Regions from separate parts of the Homo sapiens genome. Here region 1 is linked to region 2. Evidence: fine-mapped expression QTL. A gene starts in region 2. The other region holds a variant in brackets. All regions are shown on one strand. Distances are from middle to middle.

What was found.
Region 1: its variant is fine-mapped to the expression of BORCS6 in whole blood (TOPMed, PIP 0.98).

The regions. Positions count from the first base shown.
Region 1 is chr17:8,126,320-8,129,111 of GRCh38, reverse strand. It overlaps a transcript of HES7 not described here. Among named protein-coding and RNA genes, the nearest start is that of TRG-GCC2-6, 2.0 kb to the right of the region's middle. RefSeq lists enhancers at 2,078-2,157, 2,678-2,737, 2,550-2,792 and a silencer at 2,408-2,597. The variant GT/T (reference allele first, on the strand shown) is at 1,112.
Region 2 is chr17:8,188,637-8,191,428 of GRCh38, reverse strand. It overlaps BORCS6 (BLOC-1 related complex subunit 6), which reads left to right and starts at 1,249. Exons shown (of 1, transcript NM_017622.3): 1 at 1,249-2,792. The coding sequence starts at 1,289. The coding sequence ends at 2,362. LOC124903913 (a long non-coding RNA gene) reads left to right here. Exons shown (of 2, transcript XR_007065604.1): 2 at 1-154. RefSeq lists enhancers at 790-1,435, 1,178-1,457, 1,436-2,082 and silencers at 1,568-1,617, 1,818-1,877, 1,948-1,997.

The DNA of each region.
Region 1 (2,792 bases), 62 kb after region 2:
AAAATCCTTATCGCCAGGCTCGGTGATAAGCACTTCGGGAGGCCGAGGCTGGCAGATAACGAGGTCAGGAGATCGAGACCAGCCTGAGCAACATGGTGAAACCCCGTCTCTACTAAAAATACAAAAGTTAGTGGGGTGTGGTGGCACAGGCCTGTAATCCCAGCTACTCGGGAGCCTGAGGCAGGAGAATCGCTTGAACCCGGCAGGCGGAGGTTGCAGTGAGCCGGGATCGCCCCACTGCACTCCAGCCTGGGCAACTGAGTGAGACTCTGCCTCAAAACAAAAAGGAAAAAAAAACCCGAAAAATTCCTATCACCCAAAGATGGCATAGCTATCATAACATTGTAGTGCCATGCGTTACCTTTTAGGTACACAAATGCTTACAATTGTGTACAATTGCCTCCAGCATTCAGTACAGTACCATGCTGTAGCTGTACAGGTTTGCAGCCTAGGAGCACAATAGGCTGTATAGTGTAGCCTAGGTGTGTAGAAGGCTCTACCATCTAGGTTTACATCACTACACTCTGTGATGTCTGAATAATGAAATTGCCTAGCAACGCATTTCTTTGAATATATCCGCACGTTAAGCAAATACATGATCTTACCTAAGACAAAGACCTAGGAGTAACCCCTTCATGTTTTCTCTCCCCACCACCACCTCAAGGCATTGCCTAAAAGACTGCTTCAGCCCCCTGAATGAGCCCTCTGCCTTCATTCTCCAAATAGCAACAAAAGCGATCTTTTAATTTTATCTATCTATCTATCTATCTATCTATCTATCTATCTATCTATCTATCTATCTAGAGTCTCGCTCTGTCGCCCAGGCTGTAGAGCAGTGGCGCGATCTTGGCTCACTGCAGCCTCCCCTCTCAGGCGCGGACCATCACCCCTGGCTAATTTTTTTTTCTTTTTTCTTTTTTATTTCATTGAGACAGAGTCTGGGTCTGTTGGCCAGGCGAGAGTGCAGTGGTGCGATTACGGCTTACTGCAACCTCGCCTCCCGGGTTCAAGCGATTCTCCTGCCTCAGCCTCCCAAGTAGCTGGGATTACAGGCCCACGCCATCACTCCCGGCTAATTTTTGTATTTTTAATAGAGACAGGGTTTCGCCAT[GT/T]TGGCCAGGCTGGTCTCGAACTCCTGGGCTCAAGCGATCCGCCTGACTCAGCCACCCAAAGTGCTGGGATTACAGGCGTGAGCCACAGCGTCCGGTCCAAAGTGATCTTATTAATTATTATTATTATTTTGAGACGGAGTCTCGCTCTGTTACCCAGGCTGGAGTGCAGTGGCGCGATCTCGGCTCACTGCAAACTCCGCCTCCCGGGTTCAAGCGATTCTCCTGCCTCAGCCTCTAGAGTAGCTGGGATTACAGGCGTGTGCCACCACGCCCGGCTAATTTTTGTATTTTTAGTACAGACGGGGTTTCCCATGTTGGCAGGCTGGTCTCGAACTCCTGACCTCAGGTGATCCACCTGCCTCGGCCTCCCAAAGTGCGGGGATTACAGGCGTGAGCCACCGCGCCTGGCCCCAAAGTGATCTTTTAAAACATCAGTCAGAGAATATAACTTTGCTGATGAAAATCCCCCACTGGCTTCCAATTGCCGTTATAATCCAAATTCCTTCAATACTCTCCAAGATCCTGTGGGATGGGCTACGCCTGACTCTCTAATCTGATCTCTGCCACTCTGCAAATCCTCCATCCCGAGTTCGCCGGACCTCTTTCTCCAGCTCCCACCAGCAAATAGCTCTCCTGCCTCAGAGCCTGTACTTGCAGATCCTTTTGCCTGGACTCAAGGCTGCTGACTACGCTGGCATCAAATATCACTTCTTCATAGAGGCTGTCTCTTACCACCCAGAGTAAAGTAGCCCTTCACTTTCAAGTCATCGCCATGACCTTTTTGTTGTTGTTGTTGTTGTTTTCTTCCCACAGCCTTATAACCATCTGAAGCTATCTTATGTTATTTTTTGCTTTCGTAGTTATTGTCTGTCTTTCCCTCTGTAATATAAGCTTCAGGAAAGCCCAGACCCAATGTACTCCTTACAGTACTCGGCACACAGGAGGCACCCCATAAATATGGGCTGACCGAATAAATCCAGCAGCTGCGCACACAGGCATATAGATAGATGCACTTTTTTTTTTTAACAGTTTCCTTCTGGAGGCCACGGTTACTACTTAGCGCTAAGAACAGAGCATTGGCAGTCACAGATACAATCCGAGGACGAGACAGAGACCCAGACCCTGGCGCAAATAAAACAGGTTGAAAGAAACGGGAGGGACAGCTCCAGGGTGAATTCCAGAGACAGAGACCCAGATAGACTAAGGCCGAGACCCAGATTCACTCAGCGAACCTGAGCCCCGAGCCCACAGGCCCCGGCAGCGACCGCGGACAGAGCCAGGAGGAGGCGAGCGGTGGGAGGCGGAGCGCGCCGGAAGGGAGCGGACCGCGGGGAGCCCCGCCGCCCCGCCCAGCCGGCCCGCCCCGCCCCGCTCACAAGTGGTCGCCGCAGGTGGCTGTGCGCCCACCCGCCCGCCCTCGGGCCGACGCGTGCGGGATCAAAGCGGCCGGGAAGGGGCGGGGAGGGGAGGTGGCAGGAACCTGGAAGTGTCAGCGAGCTTCCCAGGGGATGGCAGGAGCGTGGGAGCGCAGAGTCCCGGGAGGCGACAGAGACTCGGAGAGACGACGAGATACCAGAGACCCGAGAGAGCCAGAGGCGGAGATGCAGACGCCAAGACGCGGAGAGACGCGGAATCAGAGATGCGGAGGGAGGAGACCACCAACACCAGAGAGACCCAGGG
Region 2 (2,792 bases):
AATCGCGTGAACCCAGGAGGCGGAGGTTGCAGTGAGCCGAGATCGCGCCACTGCACTCCAGCCTGGGTGACGGAGTGGGACTCTGTCTCTAAATACATAAATAAATAAATAAATAAATAAATAAATAAATAAATAAAAATACTGATGTCTCCAAGCTTTGGCTATGTGTTGCAATGTACAACCTTTCCAATGTCGCTGCACCATTGCATTTAGAGGAAATCTCCATTCCCTAACAGGAACTACAAGGCCCCCTGCATGACGTGGCCCCTGCTGCCTGTTCAGCTCCTTGGCTCGAAATCCTTCCCCTTATCTTGCTGATTTTGTTTTAGTCCCAATGTCTCCTGCCCCCTCACCTCAGTTTCTTGAATACGTCAAGACTTCTTTGTCTCTGAGAGGTAGCTCAAGTTTTCTTCTCTCTGCCTGGGGGGTGGCTGCGTCTTTTTGGTTCTTTTTAGTTAAAAGTCTCACCAAAGAGGTATTTTCCTGACCCCTTACCTAAACTAGTGCCTGCTCAGTTATATTCTCAATCATAACACTTTATTTCCTGTATAGCACATATCAAAATTTGTGATCATTTCATTTGTTGAATATTTTACCTCGTGGCAAAATCACACGCCATCCTCCAAGGGGCGAGACCCCTCAGTGTGAAAGGGGCAAGAGACACAGAACAAGAGTGACAAACGCATAGGAAAGCCCAGAGGCCGCTGCCTTGACCACAGTGGGTCGCTCTGAGCAGTTCAGTGGTTAGGTCTCTTAACCAAGAAAGATAGAGCAAACCATTCATGCTCATGCTGGACTTCTGGTTTCCTTCTTTTTAGTCAACTAGGTTCAACCCTGATGGTCCAAGAAGGATATGCCATTTTCATCCTAAGAACCTCTCTAGGAACCCCAAGTGGGCTCCCCACTTGGTATTTTTGCTAAGCAATCACTGTTGGGGGGGGTACAATTACAGGCAGAAAGGATCTGAGCCCCACCCCTCGGGACTCAGGAATTTGAGGACCTTGGTCTTTAAGATCTGCCCCATCAGCTTTCAGAAAGGGCGGGGCGACGGGAGCAGCTGTCACCTCCTTCTCTCCACCCTGCCGGCGTTCACGTGTGTTCCGCTGTGCAGTAACAGCTCTTCTTCCGGGACTTCCTGGTCGCCGCGACCAATCAAAATGCTTTTCCTGTCCTTACCATTGTCAGCCGCTGCCAATCGGCTCGCCTCTACCAACGCCCCTTAAAGGCGCAGCCACTGCCTCCGGAGCCGGGGCGAACCAATTCCTCCGTTGCGGCCCCCACCTGCAGTATGGAGTCGTCTCGGGGGCGGCCCGGGCCCGAGACGGACCTTCTGGCTGTAGCGGAACATCAGGCCCTAGTCTTTGGCGGCGGGCCGGGCCGAACGTCCTCTGAGCCGCCCGCAGGCCTCCGGGTGTCCGGGGAGGAAGAGACCGAGAACGTTGGGGGCGCGAACCGCCACCCCAGGACGTCCCCGAAGACGTCAAGCTGCGGCGTCGTCCACCGGCCGGAACGGGAGGCTCTGGAGAACGAGCCCGGCCCTCAAGGGACGCTGTCTGGGGCCGGGAGCCGCAGGGGGGCGCCGGGTGCAGAGCACGAACCTTCCCTGTCCTCCCGGCACAAGAACCCGGCGCCGCCCGAGGGCAAGCCCTCCTCCGGGAGGGACTGCCGTCGAGGGGGACCAGGCGGCGGGATGGATGTTGAGCAGCAGGAGGAGGAAGACAACGACGAGGAGGCGGCCGCGGGCAGCAGAGCCGGCCGCTCGTTCTCCAGCCGTCTTCAGGACAGCCGCAGCCTGGACGGGCTGAGCGAGGCGTGCGGTGGCGCCGGGTCCTCAGGGAGTGCCGAGTCCGGCGCGGGCGGCGGACGCCGCGCCACCATCTCCAGTCCCCTGGAGCTCGAAGGCACAGTGAGCCGCCACGGCGACCTTACCCACTTTGTCGCCAACAACCTGCAACTCAAGATCCGTCTGAGCGGCGCGCCTCCACCCCCGCCTTCTGCCCCTGCGCGGCCCTGCCCAGCGCCTGCACCCACACCCACACCGGCCATTCCCCCAATCGACCCCGAGGTGCTGCGGGATCTGGAGCGGTTGAGTCGGGAGCTGGGAGGCCGGGTGGACCGTCTGCTTCGCGGTCTGGGTGGCGCGGTGCAGGAGCTGACGGCGCTGAGCGTGGGTTGCATCCAGACCTACCGCGATGCTGTGGACTCCTTAGGTGAAGCCGTGGACATGAGCATCAAGGGCATGTACACCCTGCTGGCGCGCTGCGAGGAGCTGGAGCGGGCTCTGCAGCCGGTTCAGGGGCTGGCGCGCCAAGTCCGGGATATCCGACGTACTCTGGAGGTGTTGGAGGCCCTGTGCAAGTGACCAGGAGGACAGGAGAGGCCGGTCCTGGCCAGGGCAGGGCCCAGCAGGACCCTAAGGACTCTTCAGGGAGTCCTGGTGGGAAGTGCCCACTGAGGGGAGGCCTGTGTGTTGGAGGCTCTTCCAGATGCGTTCAGCTGGCCCGTGCCCACTCGCTGGGCCTTAGGCTGGTGTATGTGGGGAAGTTCTAACGGCTCTCCTGGTGGGAAGGGATGTTGCTCTGCTTGTATTCAGTTGGCCATCTGTAGCTACCCTGTTCTTCCCAACTCTCCTCCCTAGCTAGAGCACCAGCCCTGGGAACACGGGGCTTTAGGTCTGCTTGAAGGTGAGGACGTGACTCCCACATGTAATCAGGAGAAAGGGACAGAGGAAGCCCCAGCCCCCACTGTGGCTATCCTGACTCCAGTGGCCACATCTCAGGTGCCAGGGGCTG